Linked DNA regions of Homo sapiens: region 1 is linked to region 2. Evidence: fine-mapped QTL for protein levels in blood plasma. A gene starts in region 2. The other region holds a variant in brackets. All regions are shown on one strand. Distances are from middle to middle.

Region 1 (2,887 bases), 30 kb before region 2:
GGGACCTCCGTCCACTGTGCGGGACGGTGATGAAAAGCAAAGCAGCACTAAGCGGCCTCCTCAGGGTCAGTCGGTTCAGGACAGCTGCCCCCAGACCCTCCAAGTCCTCCTCCCCCTGCAGGACCCCTTCCCAACACCACACCACCCCTCCCCAGGGCCGCCTGGCAGCTGGGGCACAGGAGGGAAGGAGGGCCCGTCCAGGCCTGGGGCAGGGCCCTGATGGCCTCAGTGAGTGACAGGAGGTCACCAGGGTCCAAGGTGGGCCCTGCGGCCCTCCGAAGCCATCTGGGAGGAGCGAACAGCTCTCCATGAACAAGGACAGGAAGTGTCAGTAAATGGATGCATGTTTGGAAAAGCCCTTAACTATCCAGGTCCCCGTGCCCTGCAGCTGGCTGGGTCGGGAAGGGACCTAGGCATTCCCGTCTGCAGTGCGGGGTCTCACCAGCCACCAGCATCCCTGTGAGCAGGTGACAGCTGAGGGTCACTCTGAGCCCTGACCTGTGTCACCGTGAACAGGGAGGCCCTGGTTCCTGATCTGGGTGAGGATGGGAGCAGGCGGGTCCTGGCTGCTCCTCAGCCCTCGGGGTCCTCCAACAGCCCTGGACCCCAGCAAGGCCTGCCCTGTGAGCCCTGTGTGCGAGGGGCAGCCCACATTGGCAGAGCCCACGCTGCCTCCCTGGGCCTTTGGGCCCAGCTTCCCCTCCTCCAGCAGAAGCGCAGGTGGGTCAGTGGCCCCTCATCTGCGCATGGAGGGCCCCTCACTGCAGGTCTGTGGGAGGACAGTCCTCAGACTCCTCAGCAGTGGTGCTGTCTCAGGCGTCACCCTGCAGACGCTGGGGCCCCTCAAGGGCGCAGGGAGGTGGGGCCGGGCTCTGCAGCCTGCGCTGAGGGGAGGGCATCATGCATCATCTCAGAGGCTCTGCCAGACCCTGGATGGCGGACACCCAGACAGCCCGTGCGGGGCTTCTCTGGAGGCTGGGGGGTGGGCCAGGGCTGGCTGGTGGGCTCTGCTGGGAGTCCCAGTGGGAGGAGGCGGGGAGGAAGGCACAGGCTCGCTGTGGGCTCCAGCGGGTTGCTTTGAGGCCTCCTCTGTAGGCCTCGAGGGGCTGCTTCTGCGGCGGTGCAGGGAGCTGGGGGGAGGGCTAGGCAGCCGGAGGTGCCCCTGAGGTCCCTGAAATACATGGCTTTTGGGCACACTGGCTCCCAGCTGACCTGAGGACCTCATACAAAATTAAAAGGCAGAAAGGCAGGCGAGGCCAGGCCTGGGGCTGGGACCTCTGCGCCTGCCCCTGCTCAGAGCCGCCGGCCCTCCCTGTCCCACCCCAGGCCTCTCCAGGCTGAGGTGAATTAAATATCGTCTGTGTTGTATTTTTGGCAAAGTCAGTCCTTGGCCTCTGTCCCTGGGGCCTTGGGGCAGTTACCGCCACCGGGGCCTGGCTACTGTAAGGGCCAGGAAGAGGAGGAGGGGCAGGAGGAAGGTCGGGGGCTGGGGGCAGCTGGCAGCCGAGGTCTTCTGTCCTTCCTGCTCTGACAGGCCTGGGAGGGCATGGGTCAAGGGCGTCCGGGAGCTGGAGCTCTTCCTGCTGACCTTCCGGC[T/C]GCAGAGGTCATCCAGACAGCCATCACCGCTGCCCGAGCCGCTGCCGTCGTCACCTGGGAAGGAGAGGAGGCTCCGGCAGGCAGGTCCCCACAGGAGACCCCAGTGCAGCACCACCCTGTAAGGGCCCGTGCCAGGTGACCCCAACATCCTTTCGGTGTGGAATCCCAGGACCAGCAGCACCTGATCCCCGCTGACCCCTGAGGCTGGGAGACTCTCACTCCCTGGGGCTGCCTCCCTTGGTCCCTGGAGCCAAAGCCAACAGACATCCCGGCCAGGCCTCCAGGGCGCCGCAGAGGTGCAGGGCTCGGTGATCGTGCCTGGGCAGCACAGCGTCCTCAGACTCACTGTGGTGATGCCGGAGCAGAGGGCCCCTCGGGTGGGGGAACCCGGAGGGCAGTCACACCCCTGTGGCACCCCCACCAACCCTGGCCCCTTGGCCGCCCGGCCAGGCCCTGCCCTCACTGGCGTCCTGGAAGTCCACGTCGTTGCCGTTGTAGGCGCTGCGCAGCCGGTTGGTCATGATCTTCAGCTGCATGATCTGCTGCCGGATGGTCATGTCCGGCTTGGTGATGTCCACCTCCACCTCGGGGTTGTTGATCTGGTTGGCCAGGCCGTCACCCATGACCTCGGGGAGGTACCTGGGGGAAAGGCAGGCAGAGCCCAGGTCACTGCTCCAGCCCCTGCAAAGGGCCATCACCTGAGCAGGACACTCTCCCACGCTCTGAGCCTGAGATGCCCAGCAGCTTCCAGGGACCGAGCAGAGCCCACACAGGCCGCAGAGAAGTGGGGCTCAAGCCCTCCAGCAAGGGACGTGGCCCCGTGCAGACAGCACCTGGCCCAGGCACAGCCCAATGGAGGCGGCATGGGAGGGAGGGCTGTGCCAGCCAGGTGGGCACCTACCGGCCTCTGGCCATCCCGTTCCAGCAGCGGTCATCACTGGCAGTGCTCAGGGCCATCTTCTCACTGCACAGTGTCCCTGGGAGGCTGATCCAGAAGTCCTGGACGTCGCGGAGCTGGGCCTTGGCTTCGGAGACCTGTGGGGCAGCAGTCAGGCCACTGGGCTGCCAGGGCCCGCCCGCCTCTGCCTGTCTGCCTCCCTCATGCCTGGTCCAGTGGACACGCAGGGGCCACTCACCAGCTTCTCCAGCGTGCCTGAAGGTGGCCTCTCCCGCGGGGCCAGCTTGCCCCGGCGCCGCTTCTCCTCAGGCCCGGGGCCCTGGGGGTTGACCTTGGGGTTCCCGCAGCCCTGGATGACCTGGAGAGACACTGCAGGGTCCTTGGGGGGTAGTG
Region 2 (2,887 bases):
CTGGGGGCATCGGGAGATCCACCAAGGGCAAGGGGCTGTCTGTGGGTTCTGTTCCTCCTGGAGGGGCAGGGGTCCAGAGCCCGACTGCCTCCTCCCACCACTCCGCCCCCCGCGGCAAGGCATGGCCACAGACCCCCCTCACCCAGATGCACGGATCCTTCTTGCTCAGAATCCCCAGGACCATGGGCATTTCTGCGCTGAGTCCCCATCTGAGTAGCCCTCCACCCGCACTCCCACTCCCCTGGTTTCAGAGGAGCCCCCCAGAGCAGGAACCTAGTCTGTTTTGTTCTTGCCCACTGGGTCCCTGGCACGCGGTACAGACCGAGGTTGGTTCCCACACGTGGAAAGGTGAAGCTTGGGTTCCAAGAGTTCCTTAGCACACGGAGCCCACCGTTCCACCCACCCGTACACTTCTGTCCCCAAAGCTCCTCCGGGACCACAGGGAGGGAAGAGGCAGAGCCGCAGGCGGCTGCAGGGCTTAGGGGGCGCCAAGAGGGCCGCTGTTCTTACAAAGAAATGACACGGCCCCTGGGCGGGATCCAACGCGCCGACCACCTGCAGCTGGACTCGCGGCACGAGGCTGCCCAAGCGCCAGGCGGGGGCCGGCGCGTACAAGTTCTTCGACAGGAATCTCTACGAGGCGGCGGCGTTCCGCCCGCGGATAAGTGCCCAGCTCCCTCCCCACCCCTCCGCACTACCCCCCGAGGGGGTCAGCTTATAAAACCCACCTAGGCTGCCTTTGCTGGAGACCCTACGAGAATCCCCGGGCAGGACCGGAGACGCCTCCCAGAGAGGTCTGTACAGAGCAGAAGGGGTCCGCGGCCACCGTCAGCGGCGCCCCGAAAGCCCGGCCACGCCGAGCCCCACAGCGCCCCGACAGCCGGCCCCGGGGCTGGGACTCCCGGCCTGCAGGCGCGCTGGGCCGAGCGGCGGGCAGAAGACGCCCAGCTCCAGCCGTGGCCCGGGAGGAGCGCCCCGAGCCCGCAGCCCGGCGAGATCAGCTCCGCAGGGAAGAAGCCGGCGTGCGGGGGGCGGGGAGGGGCGGAGGACGACCGAGCGGGGCGGAGGAGACCCTGGCGAGGGAGTGCGGCGCGGGGCTTGGAGGCGAGGGCCGTGGGGTTGCAGAGGAGCCGCAGCGCAGGGAGCCATTCGGGGCCCGGGCGGCGGGGCGCAGGCGGCAGGATCCCGCGCCGGGGGCGAGTAGCCGCGTCGGGAAGACCAGGGTCCGGAGCCCAAAGCCCGGCCAGGCCCGGGTTCCCGGCGCCGCGCCCTCACTCACCCGAGATCTCCGCCTGGGGCACGTCGCTCAGGCTGAAGCCCTTGGCTCCGTAGATCTGGCGGACCTCGCCGCAGCTCCGGCTCTTGCTGGCCGGGTCCCCGCGGGCGCAGGCGACCAGCGCTGCGGCCGCACATAGCAGCCACCAGCCTCGGGCCCGGAGCTCCATGGCGGGGCCGGCGGCGCCCCCGGCCACCCGCCCGCGCCTCTCTCGGATCCTGGCCGGGTCCTGCGCAGTTCCCGCCCGCGAAGGGCAGAGCCAAGGTCCCGGCGCGCGCGGCTCGCGGTCCAGAGGCGGCGGCGGCCGAGGAGGCGGAGACAACAAAAGCCGGCGGCGGCGGCGGCGCGGGGCGCGCGGGGTGCGAGGTCCGAACGCTCGCTCGGGCAGCCCAGAGCGCGGCGGGCTAGCGCAGTCCCGGCTCGGCGCCTCCCCCGCCGCCGGCCCGGCCCCTAGGCGGCCGCGGGAGAGGAGAGGGGCGGGGCAGGGTGGGAGCGCAGGGGTGGGGGAGGGACTGGGAGCACCGGGCGGGGCGGGGCGGGGCGCGGCGCGGGGGCGCGGGCCGGGGCGCACTGGGCGCTCCTCTGGCTCTTAGGGACCCAGAGGGCCCGCCTGGCCGCGCGACTCTATCGATCCCCGGCGGGAGGCGGCGGAGCCGGGCAGCGCGGGGCCGCGGCCGGGGTCCCCGAGGGCGGCCCCCCACGCCCAGCGCCCAGGGCGGTGGCACCACCTGTGGGGGCGGGGACGGGGGCGGAGGGTGCGCGAGGCAGGGCTTCCCCCGCCGGACGTGACATCACGCCTCCCGCGCCCCAATCAGGGGCCTCCCCGCCCCCAGCCGAAATCGGCATCCCGCTCCCCGCTCCCTCCCGCGCGCTCCGGCTTCCTGCACCCTGGCAGCGCGCCCCGAGAACGCTCTCCCGGCGCCTCCGTACCCTCCGCCCGCCGGCCGCGCCTCGAGCCGCCGCCCCTCTCCCCGCCTGCACCCCGCAGCGGCTCCCTCCCCGCGCCCTTCCAGCCGTCTCGCGCTGGGCTCCGGCTCGCACCGGGGGCTTTTGTGGTGTGGGGGCTGCACGCAGGAAACTCGCCAAGAAACTCGACCTCACCTCTCCCAGTCCCAGGGAGCGGCAACAGATGGCTTAATTGTTGGACCTTGACAGCTGTTTTGGGGGGGTGACCCTCCACGTTCTTTGGATGCTGGAGAAACCAAAGTGATGGGGCAGGGCCGGTCTACTGGTTTGGGCTGCTGGGTGGGGCCAGATGACCTCTGGAGAAGGGATAGGGTTGGAACCCGGCGACTAGTTAGGCCACTGGGGGAGGAGGGTGGAGTGAGCCGGAGCAGATGCCTCTTTGAAGAAGGCGGGAGGGCTGCCTGCACCTTGTATGGTAGGAGGGCGCGTGGCTTTAGCTGCACATGGGGAGTTGGGCTGGATGGGGTCTGTAGGGAGGGGGCGAGGACTGCGATGTTGGTGTCTGGAGGGCTTCACTCCTTCCTTGGCTCCCAGACCCCCCACCCCGGCCCCCTGTTCTCCACATGGTAAGGCCTGGCGGTGAAGCCAGGTGCCTGAGCTGCAGAATTGGGGGCAGGCATAGAGGTCAGTATCCTTGGCAGAGAA

The links. PIP is the posterior inclusion probability: the model's chance that the variant is causal. The UK Biobank Pharma Proteomics Project read protein levels with antibody pairs (Olink). The fine-mapping took linkage between variants from a reference panel, not from the people measured, so its PIPs are less certain.
Region 1: its variant is fine-mapped to the plasma level of the GPC1 protein (UK Biobank, PIP above 0.99). The variant lies in the coding sequence of GPC1. If it changes the protein, the assay may bind it differently, which can mimic a change of level.

What each region holds. Positions count from the first base shown.
Region 1 is chr2:240,464,821-240,467,707 of GRCh38, reverse strand. It overlaps GPC1 (glypican 1), which reads right to left. Exons shown (of 9, transcript NM_002081.3): 6 at 2,733-2,852; 7 at 2,498-2,631; 8 at 2,060-2,235; 9 at 1-1,650. The coding sequence ends at 1,418. Among named protein-coding and RNA genes, the nearest start is that of GPC1-AS1, 9.6 kb to the right of the region's middle. The variant T/C (reference allele first, on the strand shown) is at 1,597.
Region 2 is chr2:240,434,477-240,437,363 of GRCh38, reverse strand. It overlaps GPC1 (glypican 1), which reads right to left and starts at 1,701. Exons shown (of 9, transcript NM_002081.3): 1 at 1,280-1,701. The coding sequence starts at 1,445. RefSeq lists enhancers at 1-328, 2,062-2,638 and silencers at 1,453-1,512, 1,573-2,232.